7 separate regions of the Homo sapiens genome follow, and regions 1, 2, 4, 5, 6 and 7 are each linked to region 3. The links come from fine-mapping of genetic effects on gene expression. A gene starts in region 3. Each other region holds a variant in brackets. All regions are shown on one strand. Distances are from middle to middle.

Evidence for each region. PIP is the estimated chance that this variant, and not a neighbour inherited with it, causes the effect.
Region 1: its variant is fine-mapped to the expression of HACD4 in whole blood (TOPMed, PIP above 0.99).
Region 2: its variant is fine-mapped to the expression of HACD4 in transverse colon (GTEx, PIP above 0.99).
Region 4: its variant is fine-mapped to the expression of HACD4 in whole blood (INTERVAL, PIP above 0.99).
Region 5: its variant is fine-mapped to the expression of HACD4 in whole blood (INTERVAL, PIP 0.96).
Region 6: its variant is fine-mapped to the expression of HACD4 in whole blood (INTERVAL, PIP above 0.99).
Region 7: its variant is fine-mapped to the expression of HACD4 in whole blood (TOPMed, PIP above 0.99).

The regions. Positions count from the first base shown.
Region 1 is chr9:20,850,393-20,854,392 of GRCh38, forward strand. All of the region lies in intron 15 of FOCAD (focadhesin), which reads left to right. Among named protein-coding and RNA genes, the nearest start is that of SNORA30B, 65 kb to the left of the region's middle. The variant C/T (reference allele first, on the strand shown) is at 2,376.
Region 2 is chr9:21,066,375-21,070,477 of GRCh38, forward strand. No RefSeq gene overlaps it. Among named protein-coding and RNA genes, the nearest start is that of IFNB1, 9.5 kb to the right of the region's middle. The variant T/C (reference allele first, on the strand shown) is at 1,639.
Region 3 is chr9:21,030,005-21,034,107 of GRCh38, forward strand. It overlaps HACD4 (3-hydroxyacyl-CoA dehydratase 4), which reads right to left and starts at 1,636. Exons shown (of 7, transcript NM_001010915.5): 1 at 1,549-1,636. The coding sequence starts at 1,586. It overlaps LOC105375989 (a long non-coding RNA gene), which reads left to right and starts at 1,638. Exons shown (of 3, transcript XR_007061435.1): 1 at 1,638-1,996; 2 at 2,468-2,647; 3 at 3,359-3,915. RefSeq lists a silencer at 1,412-1,771 and an enhancer at 1,415-1,975.
Region 4 is chr9:20,997,249-21,001,315 of GRCh38, forward strand. HACD4 (3-hydroxyacyl-CoA dehydratase 4) reads right to left here. Exons shown (of 7, transcript NM_001010915.5): 7 at 2,261-4,067. Among named protein-coding and RNA genes, the nearest start is that of HACD4, 32 kb to the right of the region's middle. The variant G/A (reference allele first, on the strand shown) is at 2,399.
Region 5 is chr9:20,954,835-20,958,834 of GRCh38, forward strand. All of the region lies in intron 35 of FOCAD (focadhesin), which reads left to right. Among named protein-coding and RNA genes, the nearest start is that of HACD4, 75 kb to the right of the region's middle. The variant G/A (reference allele first, on the strand shown) is at 2,285.
Region 6 is chr9:21,085,468-21,089,570 of GRCh38, forward strand. No RefSeq gene overlaps it. Among named protein-coding and RNA genes, the nearest start is that of IFNB1, 9.6 kb to the left of the region's middle. The variant C/T (reference allele first, on the strand shown) is at 1,556.
Region 7 is chr9:21,005,592-21,009,684 of GRCh38, forward strand. It overlaps HACD4 (3-hydroxyacyl-CoA dehydratase 4), which reads right to left. Exons shown (of 7, transcript NM_001010915.5): 6 at 2,430-2,555; 7 at 1-1,528. The coding sequence ends at 1,446. Among named protein-coding and RNA genes, the nearest start is that of HACD4, 24 kb to the right of the region's middle. The variant A/G (reference allele first, on the strand shown) is at 2,345.

The sequences.
Region 1 (4,000 bases), 180 kb before region 3:
ACAATTTTGGAGTGTTAGAGGCATTTTTTATGTGGATTTTATGAAATGGATGATGGTAGATATAAATTGCTATGGCATTTTATCTAATTGTATAAACTTAGTAGAATGTTATAGCAATTTTATTTTAAAATGGAAGTATTTACCATATGTTAGAAAATAAATCTTTTGCAGTCTTTATACTTCTTAAATGCCAATTTACATGATTTTTCAAAACTTTTTAGGAGTTGCATGAGCAAAAAGTATTTAAAGACTCCTACCTTCAGTTATGCTTTAAACTTGATTTTCTTTTATCATATATGATTTAATTGGCACAATTTAAATTGGTATAATTGGAAATTAAAAAGACACAACAGAGCATCTGGTACATAATTGCTCTTTAATATTATTTCCTCCAGGAACTCCTTTCTGATCTCTGCTCTCTTCCTTAACCAGGTAATTTCCCCCTCTATATCTAGTATGAAACTTCTGCAGTTTCTCTTAACACAAGGTTTTGTAATGCATGTTTATGTATCAGTCTCTACTACCTGATGCTAAGGTCCTCGAAGATAGAAAGTATGTTTTAGCAACTGACCTCCTCCTGCAAAGCGTCCAGCTTAGTACCTGGTACATAGCAGTTGCTCAGTTCACATTTCTTGAACTGAACAATAAAGAAGATAAATAATTAGTCTTATGAAAATATTAGATAACCTTAAGTTGGTTTAAGTGTCAGGGTTTGTCTTGTCTATCTCTAGTGAAAACTTATTCCTTTGCATATTTTGTAGGAATAATTTCAAAAGTTACCACCTTCAAATAAAGTTGAAAACCATGAAAGAGTTTTGGTTTTTTTTTTTTCGTGGGGTGGGGGGGTGTTATTATTTAGATCCATTGGTATATTAAAATTTTTTTCCATCTAGCGTCTTTATCTGTAAAGAAAGGGATTAGAAAATATGATGTCCCTGTTTCTAAAACCAGATATCTGCATAAATGTTCTGACTTTTATCTTCATGCCTCTTTTAAGTGGAAGAGCAGTGCGGAAGGTTAAACTTTGGAATTCATTGTGAATTTGACTGCTTTATGGCAGCAACACATCAGAATTCCTGATATTGGAACAATTCAAGTCAAATCCAGGGCTTATTGCTGTCACATTTCTAATTTCCTACCCGTTTTGAAATTTTAAAGTAAATTCACTAATAAAGTCTAATATCTGGTAACTGAAAGTATGGTTTTATAACTAGCAGCTTCTGTGTCACCTGGCAGCTTGAAACGAGAATCTCAGGCTCTACTCTAGACCTACTGAGTTAGAATCTGTAGTGTGATGAGATCCTTTCACCACAGGGTATTCAAGTGTACATTAAAGTTAAAGAAGCATTGGTCTAATCTAATTGCTAAGCTGTATCCAGTTAATAATCACATAGTCTAGTTCAGGAGTTGGCAAACCATGGCTGACTCTTCCAATCCAGCCCACTACCTTTTTTTGTAAGTAAAGTTTTATTGGAGCACAACCATGCTCATTTGTTTATGTATTGTCCATGGCTGCTTTCTTGCTACAGTGGTAGAACTGAGTAGTTGTAATAGTGACCATGTGGCCCTTGAAACCTAAAATATTAATTCTCTGGCCCTTGACAGAAAATGTGCCCTGCCCTGTCCTAGCTGGTGATAGGTCAGTTACCACCATGTATTTATAAATTTGTTTTGAGATGAGTGCTTTTTTATGCCAAGCACTGTGCTAGATGCTGCTTTTGTTTGGGTGGAAAAATCTTGTTTATCCTTGTTTAAACCTTGCTTTGGGGGAACCATTTTTGTTGTGAATCACTAGCTTTCTAGCACTGAAGAGCAAAGTAATTCCTAAGAAGTTTTACTAAAAAGTTTCCTTTTTCTTTGTTGAACTTGTAGATTATAGGTTTTGTCTTTAGTCTTGATTTTCCTAAGAAGGAACTTGTTTGTTTCTATGAAAAGGGACCACAGGCATGTTTGTTCCTTGTTATTAGGGAGTTGTAGTTAGTTGTGTGAGCCACTCAGGCTTAAAAGACTGATTTTCCCTATTGTTTATCCATGAAGAATTCATCAGTTCTGTTATCCCCAGATCTGTGGATACATAGGGTGGGGGTGGGAGGATAGAAGAATCATTTTCATTGAACGTGTAATCAGGTTATGTTTCAGGAACTCTCAACATTGGTTACTTAGAAATGCATTCGTGGAATTCTATCTTTGTAAAGTGGACTAAACTCAAGAGGTATTCCTAAAAACTTTATCTTTGAAGTTTAAAGTTTTTCTCTAAAGTGGTCTTAGTGTTTCTGAATTGACTGCCTAATTCATCAATTTTTTTGATACACAGCATATTGATTCTTAAATATGAAATGACAGTAAACTGTATTTCTCAGTCTCTTTCTACAGTA[C/T]ACTTACAGCCTCTTTAGCCCTTTTTAACATTTAGATGGATGATATTTTTATTCTTTTTGCTAGTAAATACTCAATTTGCTTTACTTTTAATTTTGTATCTGTTGAACAACTTCCCAGTAGTTCGATTTATTGAGTTTTAAGCTATGTTGATTTAATTTCTGTTATTTTCCTTTATTATCTTGGAGTCTAACCTCTATTAGAAAAGAGGAAGGAGTGACCATTAGAAAAAAATTTCCTCTGATTATTGTGGGGGAATAAAGCACTAATCATTTTCTTGTCAAGGAATTTTTTGACATATTCTTCCTATGAATTTGCTAGTTCATCCTGGAAGAATGTCCACCAAAAAATAGATAACTCATACAGACAGAATCTAGCAAAACTGAAAAGTGAATGTCCCTATAGGGAGTTCTTTGTGTCATTCTTTCTGTTCCTGCAGAGAAATCAATGGAATTTGCATTGGAAGATACTGTTCCTTGTGGAAGTATCCTAGGCACCTGTAATTTCTCACTAGGGGGAATAAAAAAGAAACCTAACGTCTCTGGCTGTTGAGTAGTGAGTCTCTTGGGTGGCTTCATAGTCTAGATCAATCTGTTTAATAAATGTCTCTGTTTTTACTTGTGTCACACAATTCTAAACCTGTTCTATTCAGATATTAGAATTATAAGTATGTACTACAAAGTGCCAAATAGTTTTTCAGAAATACAGAATAATTTAAAAAGTCTCTGTTACACCTCTTTTGGAAATGTCATGGTGATGTTACGGGTTGTTAATATGAGAGTAGCTTTACTACAAGTCCAAATATTTTTGATTCTCTAAGGCATAGTTTGGGATTTAGATATGTTCATCTATATTCTTTGCCATGAACAGGACAAAAGTTGTTCAACTATGTTAGAAAATCATCAGAATTACTGTCATTTAGATTATAAGTGAGTTTTAAAAAGGTACCTCAATATCTATATCTGTTTGTTTCTTTTTTCCCTACAATGCTGCCTTGATAATAAACTAGTCTCAGACATTAAAAGGCTGTGAAATTGCTTAAATAAACCTGTGCTAGTCATTTTTTAAAATACTTAACAACCCCTAACCCTATATTATTAGGATAAGAAAGAATGTTATTTTTCTCATTGTTTCTGCTCCATTGATTGTGTCTCTTCAAAATCTCTCTTATCCCGTTATTGTGTTTTGGTAACAGAAGCATCCTGTTTTATGAATTGTGTGTGCTGAATTAGCTTAAGAGGGCTTCACTGCGTGATGATGACTTGAGTCCTTTAATTGTGAAGGCAGTTTCTTTTGCCTTCATTATGAAAAGGGCAAATAAGGCAGTTTTCATAGCCTAAAGGTTTTTTATAAAGCTTTCCTCTGTTGGAGTAAAGAATCAGGACAAAAGGAGTAGGCTGTTCTCAGGAATTTCTAGAAATAGCTTTTGAAAGTAAAATTAGGAGATAGCTCTCTGTTCCTCTGCAAAAGAACAAAGTCATTTTTACAGCACAGGAATTAGAAGGAAAGGCTCTGATTCTTCTGAGGTTCACTATTTTTTTTTCTGTTGGTTATAACAACAATAACTATATTTTTCAGTGTATAAAGTAGGTGTACAGTTGTCTCCATATGGGCTTTACTGGTAACC
Region 2 (4,103 bases), 36 kb after region 3:
AGATCTATGAGTTATGTATTCAAGTATTCATTCATTCAACAAATGTTGATAGGTGGTGTGGTGCAATTAGTTAGTTGTGGAATCAGAAAGACCAGCCTGTCCTTGAATACTTCCCCTGCTCTTCACTGATCCCTGAACTTGAAGCAGATTCCTTAATTCTCTACTACTTGCTTTCCTCCTTTCAAACACAATGAAAATGCTATCTTATAGCAACTCAAGGGTTAGCAATAATATATGTAAAATACTCTTTCTCTCTTCTCTAATCACGGAGCAATAAGGGTGTGATTCCTGAGTGGCCCAGTCCCCCTGCCTCCTCAGGGAGAAGTATAAAGAAAGGAGGGGAGAAAAGATTTCTGATAGAGGAAAATCTCCAATTCCTGTTTCTGAGACCCCTGAGCTGCCCTTCCTGCAACAATTGCTTTGATGCTATGAGCAATTCTATTCTTGCAATAGATCCCATTTTTACATATTGTGGTTGGAGTTGAGTTTCCATCACTTTCAGCTGAAAGGGTCCTGAGGGTGGCAGCTGAAATCCTCTTTTCTTTGAGGGCATGTGGATTATTTGGTGAAAATAATGAAAGCTGAGGGAGAGAAGGCAGGCTCATCACTACGGGTAAAGCAGGTTGATATTTGTGATTGTCTGCTTTGCCAGCTAGGGAACCCAGTCCTGGGCGTCAAGAAGGACTTATCTTCATTCTCTGCTTCAATAGCTCTCTAAAACCTCTGTGAACATACTTATCTTGCCTTTAACTGCTCATCTTCTGCAATAGGACTGAGCTCCCTGAGGGCAGGCCTTGTGGCTCTAATGCCTTGAATGTTATAAGCTGTCCAACTCACATGTGTAGAATGAATAGTGTGTAAATAAATATACAGAAAATTAAGAATTTCTCAATTGTCACTCATGTGAATGTCTCCTAAATACAGTCTTTCCACTTAATAAATAAAAAGTTACTAAATAGTACCATTGCCTGAGCCAATTAAAGTTTTGCATATCTTAGAACCTTGCCTCTGCTATTTACTCACCAGTTAAAGCAAATTATTTAAGTTATCAATCCCCAGATCTCTAATGTGCACTTTGACAAGTATATATATATTTTTGAAATTCAAATGCTGTATTGAGAAAGATATAATCCATGCAGAGGGCATTATGACTAGTGTGCTTCTGGGTTAACTGTTTGGCCAGGAGGGAAATAATATTGCAACTAGTTGAAGATCATCGTTTTGGAGCACCTCCAGACCTTATTACTGCATGGTCAGACCTGGGGGAAAGAATGAAAATGTATTTCCTTCTACTTTGGTTCAGTTGATAGGCTATTCTCTATTGGAGACAAACTGTGTTTCACACACAACCAGCTGGGTGACCACTTAATATCACAGCAAGATGCAATCAGGCAGTGGGTTCCACAGGGTCCAGTCTTCTCCCAGTTGATCGATGGGAGCAGTTCATTAAGGTCAAAATATCAGAAATGTAAATAGTTCTTTCACTGCTTCCCTCCACCACTGTTTTCCCTTTGGGTTATTATCATTTATCACTTCTGGCAAATCAAAAAGAGAGAGAGAGAGAGGAAAAAAGGAAAAATCAGAAGAATGTTTAGACTGTTGGTGAAAATGCTGCTGCTGAATAAGATGATGTCTCCT[T/C]GGAAGTTACCACAGCTTGATAGCCATAATCCCTTCTCAGAACCTTTAGAAGGCTTTGTGGCCCTGTCTGAGTGTTCCCAAGTTATTCCGCTGGTGGGTTGCCTGTGTTTTTCCATTCCCAATTAATGACTGGATAAGGAAGTAAGAACAGAATAGGGAACAGGGGCTTATTAGGGACCAGTAACGGTTCCCTGTGACAAGACATCTAACAGATGAAACACTGTTCCTGTCATCCTTTTCATTTCTGCATTTATGTGGCTGGGTTACCAGGAGATAGGGAGAGAGATCAGTCTAGAAGTCCAGTATGGGGCACCAAAGCTAGTGAGATTTCCAGTGGGAGGCTGAGTTCAGGCAACAATGTCTGTGAAACTGAGCAATGAAAGAGAGAAAGCTTATTGGACATGCAGTCAGAAGATAAGAGCCTAGGTCATTTTCTAATTATACGAATATATTTGAGATGCCCATGGACTTTGTGTTAGGCTCTTATTGACCAGACAATTACATGATCATGGTGTCATGGTGTTGTTTTTAATTACAGAGATAATTGTCTGAACTATCTGGGAATTTCTACAGATTTTGTGAAATTTTACTTTGGATAGGGATGGGATGCTTTAAAATAGAGGCTCTTATATTTCAGCAAGAGAATAATAGGTAACAATTGCCTGCAAAGAAGAAAAAAAGCTACCATTTATTGATAGTATATGCCAGGAGTTTTTCTGGACAAGTCCTACACAGGTAGTAGATGCAATGGAGGGTTATTTACCTCTCCCACTTCCTTCTTTATACATACCTGCCAAGCCAATGGGAGCCTGAGATGAAGTCAAGGGTTTTGAATGAAGCAATTTGAAAATGAACCCTTCCTTGTCAACTATTACAGAAAGTATTATAATATAACCCAGGGAGGTTGAGCACTTGCGACTTAATAAACACAATTAAACCATAAGAAATAAGAACAAATTTAGATAAACAGAAAGAAAATGAATTTTTCATGCATACCACATTTATTATTTCAGGGGTGTGGCTTATAGTAGGAAAATAATCCATGGAACTCAAAGGTATATTGGAGTTTAGGAGAGATCCCGTTGCAGCCTGGAGGGGAGGAAGCTGTATTGAATATTGCTTTCCTCCCTTGTGTGGCCTACTCTTCCTTAATAGATGCTAAGGTGCCACATATGCCTGATAGACACCAATTGGTCTAAAGCCAGTTCGCCAAATATAAAATATATCATGCTTTAAACTATTTATAAGGCTTATAACAAATATAATGGAAGAAGTTATTTTAATAACCCTTGAATATTTCTATGGCATTTTATTATTTTAATTTATTTTTTAAATTGACAGATAAAAATGGCATGTATTTATTGCATACAACATGGGGTTTTGAACTATACATACATTGTGAAATGGTTAAATCTAGCTAACAAGTGCATTATCTCACATAGTTATTATTTTTTGTGGTGAAAACACTTAACACCCATTCCCTTAGCATTTTTCAAGAATACAATATATTATCATTAACAATCACCATGCTGTACAATAGATCCTTTGAACTTATTCCTCCTATGTAACTGTAATTTTGTATTTTTTGACCAACATCTCCCCAGCCCTCTCCTGCCCATCCCAACTGTCCCAGCTCTGGCAACCATCATTCCATGCTCTGTTTCCATGGGATTAACATTTTTAGATTTTACATGTAAGTGAGATCCCGTGGTATTTACAAGGCCCTGTGTTGGACCAAGTCATACATCCCATTTTTTGCATTTATTTCTCATAGAAATCTTGAAGAGTTTGGGGTATGATTGTTTCTAATTTATTTAACTTGCCCAAGACCATACTGGTACAAAGTGGCAGAACCCACAGTAGCTCTCAGGTTTGTATTATTTCATGCCCTGTGTTTTTGCCATCAGAGTATAGGAAACTTAAAAAAAAAAAAAAAAAAAAAAAAAAAACTTTGTACTTTCAATGCACAGACTTTCAATTCATGCATTTCTAGATTAGTAAATCATTTTCTGCTTTGAAAGTTATTTGTTTTACCTCTGGACTTTCATAAAAAGAAAATGAGCCAAGAAATTAAAAAGTGAAAGGAAAGAGAAATTTGCTGTGTATTTCCATTAAGTAATGTAAGCCATTTTAGTTTTTAAGCATTCCTGTGAGATAACAAAATCAGCTTGTGTCAGACTTGAGAGGGAAACTGCACACAGGGCTGTCTTGCTAGTACATGGATAAAAATGTAGTGCTCAAGAGAAGGAAATGCAGCCTTGCCAAGGGAAAAACGATGACTCATGATTCAGACAGTTGCTTACAAAAACCTTTGGAGAAAATATTCTCCGTAGAGTCTGGCAAAGGAGCAAATGGGAATTTCCTGCTATTCTCTTTAGAAAAAGGAAGAGAGAGAGAGTTCCCTTCTGCATGGGGATGGAAGGAGACCAACTGCTTGAGTGAGGACAGCAGTCCTTTCTGCAAAA
Region 3 (4,103 bases):
GGACCATCTGTATAGTGAGTTTGCTTAAAACCAAATATAGTGCTTTTTCAAAATCTGCTTTCATCTTTGATAAAGTTCTAACCTTGCTGCTCACCAAGGAATAAAAGAAACCACTGCGAAGGTGGCTTTGAATATTCTTTAAAAAAACAAAACAGGCTGGGCGCGGTGGCTCAGGCATGTAATCCCAGCACTTTGGGAGGCCAAGGCGGGTTGGATCACTTGAGGCCAGAAGTTCAAGACCAGCCTGGCCAACATGGCAACTTACAAAAAAAAAAAAAAAAAAGCCGGATGTGGTAACGTATGCCTGTAATCCCAGCTACCTAGCTGCTCAGGAGGCTGAGGCAGGACAATCACTTGAACCTGGGAGGTAGAGGCTGCAGTGAACCGAGACAGCGCCACTGCACTCCAGCCTGGGCGACAGATCAAAACTCTGTTCTCAAAAATAAATAAAAAATAAAAAACAAAACAACAACAACAACAAAAAATCCATGTGTGCAGAGTGGTTGACATGTCACTATGTGTTCCAGTAGCTCAGCTTGCTAAGTGCAGAACTTGAGACACAGTGTTTTAGTTCTGAAGGGGGGTAGGGATGGGAGTAATCCAAATGTTGGGTAATTCAGTAATTGGACACACCTGACTTTTGAACACATTATGTGATTGAGGTTAGTATTAACATCTTGCCACTGCCTATTAACATTTTGCAAGGGTAGATAGTTTCCTTCATCAGATACATATCGAAAGCAGTTTAGTTGCTCATACCAGAAGAGGGAAGTCAAGCTGGGTTTAACAATGTGTTGTGAGTTGCTGGGGAGATGACTAAGAGAAGATTGACAGATAGATGGTTTGAGGGAGTTAGGAAAAGCACTGTTTGAAATGTTCCCTGGGAGTTCAGAAGAGTGACGGGAGTGGCCCTGCCAGTGTGGTCAAGATTTACTCCTCCTTGAAGATGTGAAACCTCCTAGAAACAAGGAAAATAAGCTGGGAGGCAGAATGATTTTTATTTGGGGACATCCTCCCCTATAAAGGCAGGAACTGCTAAAGGGTTTGGGAAGAGGAAATCCTCCTTCAGCTTGTATCAGAATTACCTGGCTTGTGGGTTAAACATATACACCCCCAGGCCCTACCGCTATATGACTGAATCTGTTCCCCGCCGGAACTAGGCCCTGAAATCTATACGTGTGATAGGTGTTTCCACGGCTGTTACATCTAAAAATCACCCCGCAACTCTGCGTCTGAGAAAGTCAAGAGAAGGCTCCTGGGGGGAGGGAAGTACTGGCAGAGGGCTCACAAGGGCAGGGGTAGCCATGCAGCCTGTCCTTCCCATTCAACTGTAAAATGGAGAAAATAACAGAGCCTGCTTCCTAGGGTGGTCAAGAGGGGTAAGTTAGCAAATACCTGCATGAGCTCCAAGGGGTGCCTGGGCACGGTAGCGCTGCGCCTTGCTGGCGGGCGGGGGGTGCCGCCCGCCCGCCCGCCGCAGAGGGGAGCTCCCGCCTCCAGGCCCTCCACCCGCGCCCCCTCCCCTCGGGATTCGGCCGAGCGCCCTACCTGGGCTGCAGCCAGGCGGGCAGCGCCAAGGGCCCCATGGGCCGCCGCCGCCAGGGCTTCCAGCGCGGTCCAGGAAGGAGTACCGGGGAGGAGGCAGGGGCGGCCCCGCGGCTGGGCGCGGAAGGGCGGGGCCTCTCCACACTCAGCAGTTTACAAAAAGAAAAAGCCCGAGGTCGTGCGTTGGGGAAGAGATGAAAACGAAGTTCTCGAAGTTTCTGCAGCACTGCTAGAGCGCGTCAGGGCGCAAGGCTGGGAGGCGGCTCGCGTTCCCGGTGGGGTTACCAAACTCTGGTTACAGCTTCCTAATCTTTGTGTTGAGACCCCCTTGCAAGCCTTCTGGAAATTAATGCATCTGGGCGATTTCCGGGGCCTCCGAACTCGCTGAAGCCCATCCCCAAACCTCCCGAGATGAGTGGATTCCAGGGTGGGCTCTGCTCAATGCCCACCGGTGAGCCAGGTTCAGACACGAAGCTTGTGCCGGGCGCAGTGGCTAATGCCTATAATCCCAGCACTTTGGGAGGCCGAGGCGGGAGGATCTTTTGAGCCCAGGAGTTCGAGACCAGCCTGGGCAACATAGCGAAAACGCGTCTCTACTAAATGTACAAAAATTAGTCGGGCATGGTGACGCGGGCCTGTGGTCCCAGCTACTCCAGAGGCTGAGGTGGGAGGATCGCTTGAGCCTGGGAGGTCGAGGCTGCAATGAGCCAAGATCACGCGGCTACACTCCAGCCTGGGTAACAGAGCGAGATCCTGTCTCAAAAAATAAATAAAAATAAAACGAAGTTTGTAGCACACCTCCCCAACACTTTTTCAGCTAGGGGCCTGATTCCTCTTCTATCAGGCCTCCCTGCTCTCTAATCTCCCTTGGGTTCTCACTGGTGCCTGCAAATCTTTATTCACGTTGTGTTAATTTCTCTAGCCTATGCCCAGCACTGCTACAACCCCTTCGTGATCTCTCAGGCTTATGACATCACTGTCTCCGTACACAGATGACCCACCCTCCTGCTTTGCTAATAAGATCCAGCCCATCTTCAAGCTCCTCTGCCCAGAAAGGGAAACGTTAAAACAAAAACAGAAACATCTAAGAAGGCACTTGCAAGTAAGTGGGACAATGGCACCTGGTTTTGGAGTTGGAAGTTAGCGCCCCCATTTTTACCAAAAGGGAAGTTGAGGCATTAAAAAAATGTTAAGTCACTTGGCACAGGTCACACAATTGATAAAATGGCAGTATCAGAACTTCAAGGTTGGTGGGATTTCTTGTTTGTTTCCCATTAGGCCGTGGCTTCCTTTTTTCATAGTCCATTCCATTCACTATGCCTACCTCTCACCTCTACATTTCTCTGCACCTTCTCTCATACCCTGCCCTCAGTCGGAGGTTAACCCCAACTTTGTGTTTACCAGTCCCTTCTCAGACTCACTGCATCAGTAGTTAACCATCGCCTCTTCTTGCATCGTCATCCCCTCCTTTCCATTGGCTTTCACTGCACTTTAGGGACATAGACAACTCTCTCTTAGCATATAATTAAACATTGTATTCTTTCTGTTTCTCTCTCAATGGAATCTTCTAATAACTCCCTGCCTGCCTTCTCTGATCAGGTGCTTCTTTCATTTCCTACCATCTTCCTGTTCCATAATACCTTACAGTTTGACTCTCCTGACACTGCTCCGTCCGCGAGCATGTTAATTTTTCGCCGAATCCCTATCCTGTATCACCTTGCAGGATGATGCCCCACGGTCCTTGCTTTTACAGAACATTTGATCTAAAGGGTAAACTGGTGGCTAACCCATTATCAATGCTATCTCTGATCAGGTTAAGCAGCAAGAGAGAAAGTAAAGTCCCAGATGGCCTGCAGTGGGGCAGGAGGGAGAAGGTGGAAAGCCTGCCCAGAAGAATTGATCCTTTGTCACCAAACACAGCCCCTGCATCCACATCCTCATTGACAGGTCTGCTGCATTTTACCAGTTCTGTCTGTCTGCCATTTACCCCTGAAGTTCTACATATTCTACGTCTCTTGCCTTATGTCCCTTCTGTCTCTCTGGATGGGTCTTCTTCTCCTGCTGTATTTCCTCAAAAGTCTGCCCTTAGTCACCATCCATTTGTCACCATGTTATCCCTCAGCATAGACAACCACACATGGCTTTATCTCCATGTGGACAACTTTTGACTATTATTTTCAGCCCTTTCTTCTTTTATGAATACTATCTCTGGCCTTTGAGCAGCTTTTGGATATTTCCTCATGAAAGTCCTATTGTTTGGACTATCTTTGGAACGTCTTCCAATTCAACCTATTTAAAATAAGCATACTATCTCTCTTCCTAAATCATTATTTCCCACAGAAAGACCACCATTTTTCTAGCCACTTGATTTTAAATTGGGGAGTCATCATTAAGCACCCCATCCAATCAAATTCGATTGATCCCATCCTTTCCAGATCTCCTACTAATCAGTAGTGTTCTTTGTCCATTCCTTATTTTCCAGTACCTGGGTGAGGAGTAATTGGCCTCCCTCACATCCATTCTTTACATCATAACTCAGTTGACTTTCTGGAGCGTCT
Region 4 (4,067 bases), 33 kb before region 3:
TAACATTCACTGCTAGGTGTCAGAAAACAGCTATAGAATATACACAAAACATTCACTGCTAGGTGAATTCACTGCTAGGTGAATTCTAACATTCACTGCTCGGTGTCAGAAAACAGCTATAGAATATACACAAAAGGAAATGAGAAAGGTATTTAAATGCTTCATTACAAAAAAATAAGCACAATAGATGACAATCACGCAGGAAATGAGGGACAAAATACCTATAAAGCAGATAGAAAACAAATATCAAAATGACAGAACAGTTGAGCTTTCAGTTGTATTATATTATTTAACTCTTGCAACAATACCACAACGAGGCATTTTCTATTTTAAAATGGTGCAAACACAACTAGTTAAGTGGCAGAGAACCCACTGCTCTTTCTATGCACCAGGCTCATCAGCTCCTCCTTTAAGATGAAAACTCCCACAGAGGATGAAACCTTACTCATGCTTAATGTAGATTGCTATAATCAGATAAAGAAACAACTCTGCCTCATATAGGTAGGCCTCTGGAACGGAGAAGTTTAGGTCTGTAGTGTAAATGAGTAGGTCTTCATGGGTTGAAGGACTTCAGATTCCTGGGCCAGCTTGCAACATGAATGGCAAACAGGAGTAGTAAAGAGGAAGTGAGCACCAAAGAACCACTCTCTATTTTTTTGAGTCTGCAGCCAGAGACTACCAATGCCCAAGTAAAGAGATGAAGAATCAGCCTAGTCTTCCAACCCCAGACTGCCCTTTTCAGTTCAGCCCAGTTTCTTCTCATTCAAACTTTGTCCCTGCTCCTGCCCTTGACAAGGAAACAGAAGAGTACAAAAGGGAGGAAATAAGATGTTTATTCTTTTTTCCGCAGCTCCTTCTTTTTATTTTGAGCAGCCTTGAGTATAAGATTTGTATTTTCTTATTCATGGGAACCTCTAAAGATTCTAAATTCAAAACTCCAAAGGTTCTTACATCTAAACATTCTAAGATATAGATCACCAGACTAATAAGACCTTTTCTCTTGCTATCTGCATGACCTCAGGTGAGAATTAAATTATTCCCTTAGGATTTTTCAGTTTATTCTCCAGAAACCAGAAGTCTCTGCATTTTTAGGCCAGATGTTCCTAGCTTTATGGAAAGTTTCCTTACAAATCATCTAATGTTAGTTTTTAAAAACATAAGTGGCCAAGACAAATAGCATGCTGAGATGTACTAACAAATTAATGTGTGGGGTTTGAGCCCTGATAGGTCTCTCAGAACTATCTAAACACTCTGACTCTTGATTTGAAAAGTATACATTTGGAACAGATGTTAAGATCCATGCAAGTGCCTAAAATCCTCTTTGTGTTTTATTTGTAATGTAATGGCTCCATGGTAACCAAAAGGCTGTTAATAATCTTTTTTTAAGTTAACTGTGAGACATTAATGTCTCCAAAATGATTTTAACCAGAGATAGTGGTATTGTAATTATATAAGGAGTCAGATTTAAGGATTCAATTACTATCTTGAAGTAACTTAGTAACTTTGAAAGCAAGCAGCAGTTTTAGAGGTTTAGCAAACACTTTAGTAAACTGCTGTTTTAGAAGAGAAATCAGATCATTTGGTAAAGAGATGGGGCCTTCGTTAAAGCCCGAGGGTAGGTCCCTGTTTGGTCAGTTTGTATTTCTGACCCAACCAGCCTATTCATAGGAACCACTTCAAATGGAACTAGGGGACAGAGTGTGGCTGGAACCGTTCACATTCTTCATCACTCTTGTGGAAAGACACCCAACAGCATCATCTTCGTTTACGAATGTGTGTCATCACTGCTGTGGTCCTGGACGAGGTAACATGCTTCTGTATTTTCTGGGGGAAATACATTACTGTGATCCTGGAAACTTTAAAATCTCATCTTAAATGTATGATATATATAAATATATATATATATTATTTATAAAGTTGTGAGTTTTGCATTTAATCTGTTAATCTTCATAAATAGTAAAAACTTCTTTAAAACTACAACTTAGAAAGCTCATCTGATTCTTGTCAAACATAGGGAACTTGTAAGATCATTTCCAGCTAAATTATTAAATATGAAACTGAATAAAAATGATTATTCCCTGAGGTTTGGTTTTATTTTTTGGATAAAATGATCTACCTCACAAAGTAGCTGTGAGGGTTAAAATAAATAATACAAAAATATGGTTTATAAATTATAAAATGTTATTGAAATGTTATCACTTTTGTGTGTTTCACTGCAAATAAATAGCTGTAATGCTTGAACACATTTCTGACATGTATATGGGGACTCAGGAAGACAGTGGAAGTTTATTAAGAAATTGTTCTTAACAATTAAAATATTCTAGAAGTAGCATGTTAAGATACTTATATAAGTTGAAAGAAAAAAACAAAACTTATGTGTCTTCTAAATATAAGGAAC[G/A]CTTTGAGATACAATTGAAATTCATTACCTAATTAAGCCGATAGATTTCTTGAAATATATTTCTAGATGTAGTAGTGGCGTTCTTTAAAGATAGAGTTGCACACACAATTATGGGTGTCTATTATGTGCCACTATACAAGTTTCTGGGGTACAATCTGAACAAAACGTGTCATCCCTGCTCTCATGGAACTTACAGTCAGAGAATATAAATCACTAAACCATCATGAAGTAAGAACAGAACATGTTATAAATGTCCTACTTCTGCAAAGCCCTTTATAATTTGCAAAAGTTTAATTTACCATATGTCATTTAGTCTTCATAATAACTTTAAGTGGTTAAGGAAACTGGAACTCAAAGAGTCATTCAGTTAGTAAATAATGGAGCTTGATCTCAAATCAAACCTAGTGCTCTTAATTCCAGACCACATTATCTTTCACAAGAACCCCATCATTCAGCTGAATACCATGAAGTAACAATAGACACCTACATGTATGTGATGAATTAAGGCATACTTTTACTAATTGACTTTCATATGGAATTAACTAACCTTATTTTAGATGAGATTTAAAACTCCAGCTACCCTTAGCAAAAATAAACTAGTTAGTAATTCTTACTTGGCATGTTAAAAACATGTTCAGAACTACTATTTAAGGATTTTTAAAGCCATAAAAAATCATCCCTGTTCTGAAAACATTGGTGGCTTTTATATAAGTAGTTCTTTTTAGCAGTTTTCTTTCTGTCCAAAGCTGAAATAATTTAGACTCAAAAGCAGTGGTTCTCAAACTTTTCTGTGCATGAGGCTCATTTGAGGAGTCTATCAAAAGGTAGGATCCTGAGCTTATTCCCAGAGCTTCTGATTCAACTATCTTTAGTGGAGCCCTGGAATCTGCATTCTAAACAGGTGAACTTGTTAATTGTGGCTGTTGCTCCCTGAACATACAATCTGAACACTACCCTGGAGAACCATGTCATATCAACATTAGCATATAACTCAGACCGAGAAGAATATTAAAATTATCCGAACCAACGGGAAACATTATAATTATTAAAAAGCAGTAATAAACAAGTGGAAGATAGATACTGGGTAAAGGAAGATAATTTTTAGCATATTTTAACCTTAATTTTAAATCACTTTAACACTTTAGTACCATAAAATGTTTTCTCCATAAGTAAACTTAAATAATTGTAAGATTCTTTCTTTGGGGAAATATTTTGGACATTGAGATTGTATCTATTTGTACTTCTGAAATAAATACAGTTTCTCACATTTGACAACTTGCTCAAGGCAGGCAAAGTAAGGAATAGTTTAAAAAAAAACATTAACTTAGGGACCTTAGTGAGATGTAGTTACCATATTATTAGATTGAAACGTTCAGTTTTCAGCAAAAAAATAACAAGGCATACAAAGAAACAGGAAAGTATGTCCCTTTCAAATGAAAACAAAAACAAAAACTATCTCTGAAAAAGACTTGATGGTGGATCCACTAAAGGCTCTACAACGACTGCCTTAAGGATGTTTTTTAAAGAACCAAAGAGCATGCGGAAAAAGTCAAAAAACCAATGGATGAACAAAATGGTAATATCAATATAGAGAAAATCTAAGACGATACAAAAAAGAAATTCAAGAGCTGGAAAGTACGATAATTGAAATGAAAAACTCACTAGAGGT
Region 5 (4,000 bases), 75 kb before region 3:
AATGATGACCCCAGAGGAGTGGGGGCCGTGGGAGGCTGACCTCCGCCTCCAAAGCCCATTTACAAAAACAAAACCAGACCCTGCTCTGTGGGGCTAAATGGGATGGCCAAATGCGGAGGTGTGCATGCAAACGAGTGTTTTCTTCTTCAATATACCCAGCTCATTTGAATTTTAATAACTCCCTTCTGAAGCAGCTTTTGAGTTTAAATGTCTGGATGTCACTCATCAGAGCCCGGTGGGACTGCTGATAGGAAGGATGGCAACTTTAGTGAACTCTTTTGAGGAATAAATGGTTTTAGAAAATAAAAATAATGCTTAGCATAGGCAGAAAAGTTTAGGGATGGCATGGTTTCATTGTCTCTGCTTGCTACTTTTAACTTCAGCAACTCACTAGAGGAAAGAAATGTGATGGGCCATCCCCAATCCACATTTGTGCTAGGATGAGTTTGGGCATGGTGGTCTCAAATTTAGCCAATCAAATTTGAGATAGTGAATCTGTTAATCTGTTTTCTAATGTTTAGGGCTTTCTCACTTAGGATACTGACTTTAGTACTCATGTGATAGAACATATAAGATGTTCATAGCATCCATTCTTTCATGCAGACCCACATTTTAAAAAGATACTAAATAGATGAGATTCCCTCAGTTTTTAAATAATTCAATTCATGGTTTTGACTATAACTGGGTCTTTTTTTTTTTTTTTGCTATACCATGTGACATTCTTCTTTCTTCTCTCATAGCCCTGGAATTCCTCTATCAGATATATTGTTCCTTAATCTTTTGTCGTCATTATTATCTGTTCTTGTGAACATTTCTTGACTACGCTAGCCTTAAAATCTTTGCTCATCATCTAATTCCTCCTAACATGGATATTTTTTCCCCCTGAAGAACCTCTGACTTTTGACTTTTACTTTTTTGCTTCTTTTCTACTTTTATTCTTTTGTCTGATTTCTGATTTTCTCAAGATCATAGGCTGTTCATATCTCATCAAGATTTTATCCACTTCTTTTATAATACATTAGAAACATATTTAAAGTACTTAATAAAAGTGATTCTTTCTAATGCTAATATTAGATATTTCTATGTAATAGCATTATTTTTGTTATTATATTGCTGGGGAATGTGGCTAACACTTTCTAAGCTTATATTTTCCTATTAGGCTTTAAAAATTCACAGTAAGAAGTATTAACTAAGCAAAGTATATTTAAGTCCACGTAATAGTCATTATGAATGGCTTTCTTTCTTGATATGGGCTAATTGGTCAGTGATCTGCGTGTGTAAGTATTGGGCTTGGATACGAAGTACAGGTAGGCATATGCTCCTTCAGTCATTTTTGAACTATTACCATGAGAGGTAATTGTTAAGAAGGAAATATGCCAAGGGAACAGACTTAGTGAACTCTGAGTAGAATAAATAATACGAGAAAGCTGTCCTGTTTTCTGATGAAATCATGGAGTTGGTTGCCAAGGTTATGTGTGATTTTTGAGTATTTTAATTTAGAAATAGTTTACCTGTACAACTCTTTAAAAAATATTATCAGAAGTCAGTATATCTGTATAATACTAAGTTAAAAGTGTATATAGAAGAAAATAAGACAATCCTCTGTCATGTCACCACTTGGAGATAGCCATTATAAATATGTCCTTCATAATGTCCTCCTATATGTATGTGTATGTGTTATATTGTACCATAAAATGTATATTATTTTATTGTCCTATTTTAAAAAAAGTAATGACTTTACATGCAAATGGACATAACTAGCACCCATGTCTTCCAAAAAAAGCCTTGAGGAAGTAAGAAAAGAATCCTATTGCATTGGTTTCTGGACATTTGTCAATAGCATATGTTTTTGGTGTGTTTGATTCCTTTTTTGTTTCATGAGGTTTGTTTTCATAAACCTCATGAAAATGTTTGGAAGGAAAAATGTCACCAATTATCCCATGACTCTACAGCTATTATCATTTCTGGATATTACTTAATTTGCTGCTTCTGGGATTACAGCCATGCACCACCACGCCTGGCTAATTTTTTGTATTTTTAGTAGAGACGGGACTTCTCCGTGGTGGTCAGGCTGGTCTTGAACTCCCGACCTCAGGTGATCCGCCTGCCTCGGCCTCCCAAAATGCTGGAATTACAGGTGTGAGCCACCGTGCCTGGCCTGTATTTTTGAACTTAATATTATATTATAAACTTTCCCTGTTTTCATATATCACCATAACAATTGTATAATAACAGCTATTATTTTTGAGACAAGGTCTCGGCTCTATCACCCAGGGTGAAGTGC[G/A]GTGGCACGATCATGGCTTACTGCAACTTCAAACTTTCTGGCTCAAGTGATCCTTCTGCCTCAGCCCCCCAGGTAGCTAGGAGTGCAGGTACATACAACCAGGATCAGATAATTTCTGTACTTTTTGTAGAGATGGAAACAATGTTGCCTAGTCTGGCCTCAAACTCTAGCTTTGAGCAATCCTCCTGACTTAGCCTCTTTAATTGTTGGGATTACAGGCATGAGCCACTGTACATGGCATAATGATCATTTTTAAATGACTATAGAATATTTCATCAAATTCATAAGTCATAATAAACTTAATCATTTTCGTATTGGTCATTTTTAAAATTTCAATTTTAGTGAACATCTTTTCTTTTCTTTTTTTTTTTTTTTTGAGACAGTCTTGCTCTGACGCCCAGGCTAGAGTGCAGTGGCGTGATCTCGGCTCACTGCAACCTCTGCCTCCCAGGCTCAAGTGATTGGCCTGCCTCAGCCTCCTGAGTAGCTGGAATTACAGGCAAGTGCCACCAAGCCCAAAGATAGATAGATAGATAGCATAGATATCTCTCTCTCTTTTTTTTTTTTTTTTTTTTTTTTTTTTTTAGTGGGGTTTTTCTATGTTGGCCAGGCTGGTCTTGAACTCCTGGCCTCAAGTTATCTGCCCTCCTCTGCCTCCCAAAGTGGATTACAGGTATGCACCACCATACCTGGCCTTTAGTGAACATCGTTATGCATATAGCTCTCTTCTGCTACAGCTTTCCTTCAGATAAATTCTCAGTAATGTAGTGAGCAGGAGTCCAAGGATTTGGTGACTATAGGGATGGCCAGGCCTCGTTGCCCTTCAAAAAGCTTTGCCAGTTTTCAGTACCTCAGCCCTGTATGAATTTGCAAAAATATAAAACATAGAGGTTAAAAGCATAGGAGTCAGGCTGCCTGGGTTCATATCCCACTTCCACTACTTACTGGCTGTATAACTTCAGGCAAACTGTGTCTGTAAGCTTTGACCACTTCTGTAAAATGGAGAAAATAATTGACTGTTTTTTATAGAGTTTTGTAAGAATTATGAGTCACTTTATGTAACAGTACTTATAAAACAATATAAAGAATAAATTCCTTCTTTTATAATGTCATATTAAAAAGCAGCCCAAAAAACAAATGATAACAATAAAAACCAGTCAGGTATAAAATGATACCTTAAGACTGCTCTCATTTGCATATAATTGCCAGAAGGTCTGAACATCTGTACATTTATTTACTGTTTAAGAGGTTGGTTTTTTTTTTAAGTAAATTTGAAATTTTTAAAAAAAATTTTTAATTGATGAATAATTATACATATTCATGGAGTACATAGAGATGTTCTGATGATATTATGTATAGTGATCAGATCAGAGTAATTAGTGTGTCTCTCATCTCAAACATTTATCATTTCTTTGTGTTGGGAACATTCAATTCCTCCTCCTAGCTACTTGAAACTATGTATTATTGATAACTATACTCACCCTACAGTAGTATAGAACACTAGAACTTATACCTTCCATCTAATTGTGGTTTTGTATCCTTTAACAAGTCTCTCCTTGTCTCTTTCTTCCCCCTGCTCTTTCCTAGCCTCTAAGTATTCTCTCTTCTACTTTTTACTTCTGAGAGATCAACTTTCTTTTTGCTTCCACATATGAGTGAGAACATGTGCTATTTAACTTTCTGTTCCTGGCTTATTTCACTTAACATAACGTCTTG
Region 6 (4,103 bases), 55 kb after region 3:
TAGTCTGGAACATTGCCAGAAACAGAAGTACAACAGCTATCTGTGCTGTCGCCTAACTATCCATAGCTGATTGGTCTAAAATGAGATACATCAACGCTCCTCCATGTTTTTTGTTTTCTTTTTAAATGAAAAACTTTATTTTTTAAGAGGAGTTTCAGGTTCATAGCAAAATTGAGAGGAAGGTACATTCAAGCTGAGGAAGTTTTCCTCTATTCCTAGTTTACTGAGAGATTGCATCATGAATGGGTGTTAAATTTTGTCAAATGCTTTTTCTGTGTCTATCAATATGACCATGTGATTTTCTTCTTTAACCTGTTGATGGGACAAATTACGTTAATTGATTTTCAAACGTTGAACCACCCTTACATATCTGGAATAAATTCTACTTGGTTGTGGTGTATATTTTTTGATACATTCTTGGATTCTTTTTGCTAATATTTTGTTGAAAATGTTTGTATCTTTGTTCATGAGAGATATTGGTCTGTTGTTTTCTTTTCTTGTAATGTCATTTTCTAGTTCCGGTATTAAGGTAATGCTGGCCTAGTTGAATGATTTAGGAAGTATTCCCTCTGCTTCTGTCTTCTGAAAGAGATTGTAGAAAGTTGATACAATTTTTTTTTCTTTAAATATTTGATAGAATTCACTAGTGAACCCATCTGGGCATTGTGCTTCCTGTTTTGAGAGGTTATTAATTACTGATTCAATTTATTTAATAGATATAGGCTATTCAGATTGTTTATTTCTTCTTTTTACATTTTTCAGATTATGTCTTTCAAGGAATTGGTTCATTCTATTTACTTATCAAATTTGTAGTTATAGAATAGTTTATAGTATTCTTTTATTATGCTTTCAATGCCTATAAAATTTGCAGTGATGTTCCCGCTTTTATGTTTGATATTAGTAATCTGTGTCCTCTGTCTTTTTTCCTTAATTATCCTAGGTAGATGCTTATCAATTTTATATATCTTTTCAAGAACCAGACTTTTTATGTTGATTTTCTTTATTGATTTACTGTCTTCAATTTTATTGATTTCTGCTCTAATTTTTATTTCTTTTTTTTTTTTTTTTTTTTACTTACCTTGGATTTAATTTGCTCTTATTTTTCTACTTTCCTAAAGCAGAAGCTTAGGTGATTAATTTTTATGACTTTCTTTTTTTCTAATATAGCACTCAGTGCTATAAATTTCCCTATAGGCACTGCTTTCACTGGATTCCACATATTTTGTTAAGTTGTGTTATTTTCATTTAGTTTAATATATTTAAAAGTTTCTTTTGCCAACCAAGATTACTTTACCCAACAAAGTTGACCTTCAGAAATGAGGGAAAAATAACAACTTTCCAAGACAAACAAAAGCTGAGGTAGGATGGCACTACTATACCTACTTACAAGAAATGCTAAAAGGAATTCTTCAAGCTGAGTAAAAGGATTCTAGTTAATAACATAAAAACATGAACGAATAAAACTTACTGTAGGAATAGGAACAGCTCCGGTCTGCAGCTCCCAGCGAGACCAACACAGAAGGCGGGTGATTTCTGCATTTCCAACTGAGGTACG[C/T]GGTTCATCTCACTGGGACTGGTTAGACAGTGGGTGCAGCCCATGGAGGGTAAGCAGAAGGAGGGTGGGGTGTTGCCTCATCCGAGAAGCACAAGGGGTTGGGGAACTCCCTCCCCTAGCCAAAGGAAGCTGTGAAGGACCATGCTGTGAGGGATGGTGCTATCTGGCCTAGATACTATGCTTTTCCCATGGTCTTTGCAACCCATAGACCAGGAGAGTCCCTTGGGTGCTAACATCACAAGGGCCTTGGGTTTCAAACACAAAACTGGGCAGCCATTTGGGCAGACACCGAGCTAGCTGCAGGAGTTTTTTTTCATACTCCAGTGGTGCTTGGAATGCCAGTGAGACAGAACCATTCACTCTCCTGTAAAGGGGGCTGAAGCCAGGGAGCCAAGTGGTCTAGCTCAGCGGATCCCACCCCCAGAGAGGCCAGCAAGCTAAGATCCACTAGCTTGAAATTCTCGCTGCCCCCACAGCAGTCTGAAGTCAAACTGGGATACTCGAGCTTGGTGGGGGAGGGGCATCCACCATGACTGAAGCTTCAGTAGGCAGTTTTCCCCTCACGGTGTAAAAAAAGCTGCCTGGCAGAGCCCACTGAAGCGCCTCCAAGCTATTGTAGCCAGACTGTCTCTCTAGATTCCTCCTCTCTGGGCAAGGCATCTCTGAAAGAAAGGCAGCGGCCCCAGTCAAGGGCTTATAGATAGAACTCCCATCTCCCTGGGATAGAGCACCTGGGGCAAGGAGCGGCTGTGGGCACAGACAGCTTCAGCAGACTTAAATGTTCCTGCCTGCTGGCTCTGAAGAGAGCAGCAGATCTCCCAGCACAGTGCTTGAGCTCTGATAAGGGACAGACTGCCTCCTCAAGTGGGTCCCCGACACCCGTGCCTCATGATTGGGAGACACATCCCAGCAGGGTTTGACAGACACCTCATACAGGAGCACTCCAGCTGGCATCTGGCAGATGCCCCTCTGGGCAAAGCTTCCAGAGGAAGGAGCAGGCAGCAATCTTTGTGTTCTGCAGCCTCCACTGGTGATACCCAGGCAAACAGGGTCTGGAGTGGACCCATAGCAAACTCCAGCAGACCTGCAGAAGAGGAGACTGACTGTTAGAAGGAAAACTAACAAACACAAAGCAATAGCATCAGCATCGACAAAAAGGATGACCACACAAAATCTCCATCTGAACGTCACCAAAAGCAAAGACCAAAGGTAAATAAATCCATGAAGATGAGGAAAAACCAGCGCAAAAAGGCTGAAAATTCCAAAAACCAGAATGCCTCTTCTCCTCCAAAGGATCACAACTCCTTACCAGCAAGGGAAAAAACTGGATGGAGAATGAGTTTGATGAATTGACAGAAGTAGGCTTCAGAAGGTGGGTAATAACAAACTCCTCCGAGCTAAAGGAGCATGTTCTAACCCAATGCAAGGAAGCTAAGAACCTTGATAAAAGAGGAATTGCTAACTAGAATAACTAGTTTAGAGAAGAATGTAAAGGACCTGATGGAGCTAAAAAACACAGCACAAGAACTTCGTGAAGCATACACAAGAGCTGAACTGATCAAGCAGAAGAGAGGATATCAGAGATTGAAGATCAATTTAATGAGATAGGTTTCAATATATAGATTTGGAGAAATTCAAGAGCTAATAGGCACCACACCAGAGGCATTAACAGAAGATGACTTGACAGAGATAAGTGCTTCTGAACCAGTGCCAGACAATGAGGAAGAAGATATAGGAGAAGAAGTGCCAGGAAACAAATTGGCATTAGACAATCTGGCAGAAGAGTTCTGATTATTCAAGACTGCTTTTGGCTTCTTTTATGACATGGACCCCTCTACAACATGGGCACTGCAACTAAAGCAAATGATGGAAGAATGATTGCTACCATATATATAAAAATTTTTAGAGGAACAAAAAAGCAAAAAAGTTACACAGAAATTATGATTTATTTCCATAAAGTTACACTGTGCCTGCTTTTTCTGCCTCTCTTTCCACCTCCTCACCTCTTCACCTCTGCCACCCCTGAGACAACAAGACCAACCCTTCCTCTCCCTTCTCCTCCTCAGCCTATTCAACATGAAGACAAGCATGAAAATCTTTATGGTGATTCATTTCCACTTAATAAATAGTAAATATATTTTCTCTTCCTTATCATTTTCTTGTTAACATGTTCTTTTTTCTATCTTACCTTATCATAAGAATACAGTATATAATACATATAACAAAAATATATGTCAATCAACTATATGCTATAGGTAAGGATTCTGGTCAAAGGTAGGCTACTAGTAGTTAAGTTTTGAGGAATCAAGAGTTATACACAGATTTTTAACTACACGGGTGTCAGTACTCCTAATCCCTATGTTGTTCAAGAGTCCACTATAACCCAAAATAGCAGTCTCCAAACAAGGTCTCTCTTGGCAAACTGAATGTTTGGCCATGGTACCCAAAGGCAGAATGAAGTTTAAAGTGGAAATATATATATATATATTTCAATATATCTAATATATTGAAATATATATATTAATATAATATATTAAAGTCAATATAA
Region 7 (4,093 bases), 24 kb before region 3:
CCCGGAACAATGATTCAGAGAACATCAGTGGTACCTTCTCAGTTTCAAAAGGGGCAGTCATTGCCTTGGTTTCAACAGGCCTGACAGCTTCCGCCTGGTGATATGGGGGTCATCCTCCTCCAACATAGTCCTGGGGGCAATACCTCTGCCTCACTGGGTCCTGAAGCCAGAGTATCAGGCCAAAGAGGATTATTACTAAGACTGAAGATCTCATGGTGTTTGCCTTGCTAGGTTTTGGACTTGCTGGGGACCCATTACACCTTCCTTTTTTCCTGTTTCTTGCTTTGGGAATAGGAATGTCCACCCTTTGTGTGTCCCACCATTGTACTGTGGAAGCACATAACTTGTTTCATTTCACAAGTTCAAAGCTGGAAAGGAATTTTACCTCAGGATGAATTCTACCTTGAATCTCACCCACATCTGATTTAGACGAGACTTTGGACTTTAGAGTTGATGCAGGAATGAGTTAAGACTTTTGAGGCTGTCGAGATGGAATGTATGTATTTTGCATGTGAGGAGGACATGAATTTTGTAGGACCAGGTACAGAATGCTATGGAGTGAATCTTTGTGTTCCCCCAAAATTCATGTGTTAAGCCCTAACCTCCAATATGATGGTATTTGGAGGTGGGGCCATTGGGAGGTAATTAGATCATGAGGGTAGAGCCCTCATGAATGGGGTTAGTGCCATTATAAGAGACATAAGAGAGTTGATCTCTCTCTCATGTGAGGACAAAGAAGGACATCTATCTGCAAACTGGGAAGAGGGCCCTCACCAGAAACTGCATTAGCTGATGCCTTGATCCTGAGCGGAATTCCCAGCCTCCAGAACTGTGAGAAGCGTTTGCTGTTGTTTAAGCCATTCGGTTTATGGTGTTCTATTATAGCAACCTGAGCTAAGACATAGGGCTTGGAAAGATATTTAATTTTCTAAACATATCTAATGTTTAGGGTGAGTATTATTAGATCTGAAGACAGACATCTGTCTATGAAATATGTTATTCTAGGCAACTGTGGAATATATTTTCCATCCCTCTTCTCCTACAGATCTATTTGGGAACTTGGAAGTGAAAAAGAATACATGTAATTTAGGTTATCAAGTTTGGTTTCTTAATTTAATTGAATCTATTGCAGCTAATCTCCTATTTCTCATTAAACTTACAGGAAAATAATCAGACTTCATACAATGTAAGTATAACTTGTATAAAATCCAAATGAAGCAGGAATTTTGGTGAAGCAGGGTATGGAGAATATATATGTCTTAAAAATACAATGTGTGAAAAACATAGCCTGTTATGTCTAGAGTTTTGGGGGTATGTGCAGTTATTTCATGTAATGGATTTTTATCAAATACAAGGTATTTTTCCACCAGAATACTTCCTGTGTTTTATTTACTGCACTGAATCCACAGCCTGTCTTTTCTCGTGTCACACTGGAATGCTGTACTTCACATCTTCTTTTTTTTAATGGGAAAGATTCCGAGGATGTCTCTTCTTTCTGAGTATAGATGACTGTAGGTAAAATACATACCTAATATGGAGAAAGAAGTTGCAAAAGTAAGTAAGGTTAACTATTTCTCTGGAAGAAACAATGCTTTTAAAATACAGTCAGAGTGCTGCCCAAATCCAGGGAGAAGACACTTGCAAGGGAGATGTGAGAAGGAATGTTTAAAGAAGTGTCCAGATTTTATGCAGAAAGAGAGGTAAATCAAACTCTTCCATCCTACTTTTTTTAATGCAAGGAATTGTCTTCCTTTCTTTAGCATAGCTCTCTCCACCTTCCTCTAAAGTTTCACATTTTTGTCTTTTCTCTCTATATGTTGTTCATATGTTTGATATCTGTTACCTTCTAGAGATAATCATTATTTTGGAGATTTGTGAAGGTTAGAGCTGGGAAAACAAAAATTTAATAGTGAAAGTTTTTTCCCCAATTTCCTGGAAAATGATTAGGTTTAATGATCAAATTTATTCAAGGGTAAGTTTTTGTTCCATACATTTCTCTTGAGTCTGTAACACCGACTCCCATTTGCCTGATAGGAAGTGCCAGCTTGAAAAGCCAAACAAACAAGAAACAAAATGGATATAAATGGAAACATCAGAAATAGCCAATTCTTCTTAGTTTGACATCTAGGTTTTATTTGTAGATACCTGTGCACATGGTCAAAACTTCTATATCTCATACATAATGCAGCTATATTTTCTGATAGTAAAATTGTTCTTATTTGTACAGTGAAAGTGAAATATATGATCCCATGATGCCCTGCAAAAAGCATTATAACCTCCAGGGGCTTTACTAGCAAGATCTAGTTCATGATGTCAGGCTTCCTCTTTGGTCTCTCCCATGTTT[A/G]CCAACCTGTATATTAAGGTAGACGGCAAGCACTAACCAAAAAGTACAGGAAAAATGCAAAAACAAGACCAAAAAAGCCACTTACCTATAAAGAGCATCATGAGATATATTTTCAGCACATATGGGAAATAGATGGATAAGTCAAAGGGCAGCTTGGTGGAATAAGTGCCAAATGATTCAAAATAAGGCAGCGATTGATAGATGGCAAATGCTGTTAAAAAAGAAAGGCATCATAAAGGTATTCCTCCTTAAGTTGTTACAGGGATGTGTATATATGTCTTCATAGTTGTAGGATATTTTGAATTTGATAATGACAGTTTTGTAATAGTTGCTGAATCTTTTTGCTAAACCTAGTTTAATATAGAAATCTGTGAAATGATTAAGTTGGCAAGGTGCTTACAGCAGTATGACTTGTTGAATGTTTGTCCATGGTATACCTTATTGTGCCTACAGAAGAATTTACAATGTTTCTTAAAATGTTATCTCAAAATACATTTGTCCACCTAGCCACAAATAGGGGTGATAGAGAGATGAACTTGGAAAATGGTGCATATATTTTCCTCTTAGAGTTTCACAACACACATTAACATAGTAGAACACATATTAACATTGTGAGAAATTCTGTAATAAAAAAATACCACCTAGCCTTTCCTCAATGTAACTGGCCTTAGAATATCTCCTTCTTCCTTCTTAACCACCAGTAGTATTTAATAAGTATTTTGAAGAACTCTATGAGAAATGCTGGCCTAAATTATTTTGAGGGAGGGGGCTGGTATCAGGTAAAAAAAAGATTAAAGTTCAGTAACATTGTATCCCATGTATAGATATTTTTGGTAACATTTCATGCAATGAAATGTTAATATGCTAACATGATGTAAGATGTTATCATTAGGGTAAGCTGGGTGAAGGGTACATGGGAATGGTGCACTATTTTTGCAATTTCTTATGGGTCAAAATTATCCCTACATAAAAAGTTTTTAAAAAGAGAAAGATGAAGAAAAGGCAAGAGTTCACAACTGTTAGAGCCAAGCAGAGGTATGAGTAGCATCAGTGAAGGATCTGCCACTGACACCAAATATGCAGTTTAAGGTTAACACAGGCCGCACCTATGTCTCTAGCATTTTATCAGTATAATTAGTTGATTTTGTTATTTACATAAGCTTTGTTTTTGTCTTATATCTGTCAGATGGGAAATTATAGTTATTAAAATTATTAAAATTAAAGTTATCGAAAGTTTAGTAGGTTTATTTAACTGCGCAGTTTTATACTTTGGGACATCTAACATATACAGAAACACAGAAAGATAAAATTACAATTATCTGTATTCCACCATCCAGAGCATTATTGACATTTTTGTCATATATATCTCTAGACTATTTTCTGCATATACCTTATTTTGTAATTGCAAGAATAAGTTTATGAAGTTAATAAAAGAATAAGGGTTGTATGGCAACCATATAAGAACATGGCTTTCCTAGAAAAGACAAGGATTAGAATTATGGAATAACAAGAATGCAAAAGTTTCCTATACATTTATCCACCCCTTATTCCTAGGAAGGGATTAGTCATATTTCTACCTTATTCCTTTATATATTCTTTTAAATTTGATTAAGTTTTAATTGGCAAATCATAATTGTATACATATATGAAGCACAATGTGATATTTTGATATATGTGTACAATGTGGAATGATTAAATCAAGCTAATTAACATATCTACCACCTCGCTTACTTTTCGTGGTGAGATTTG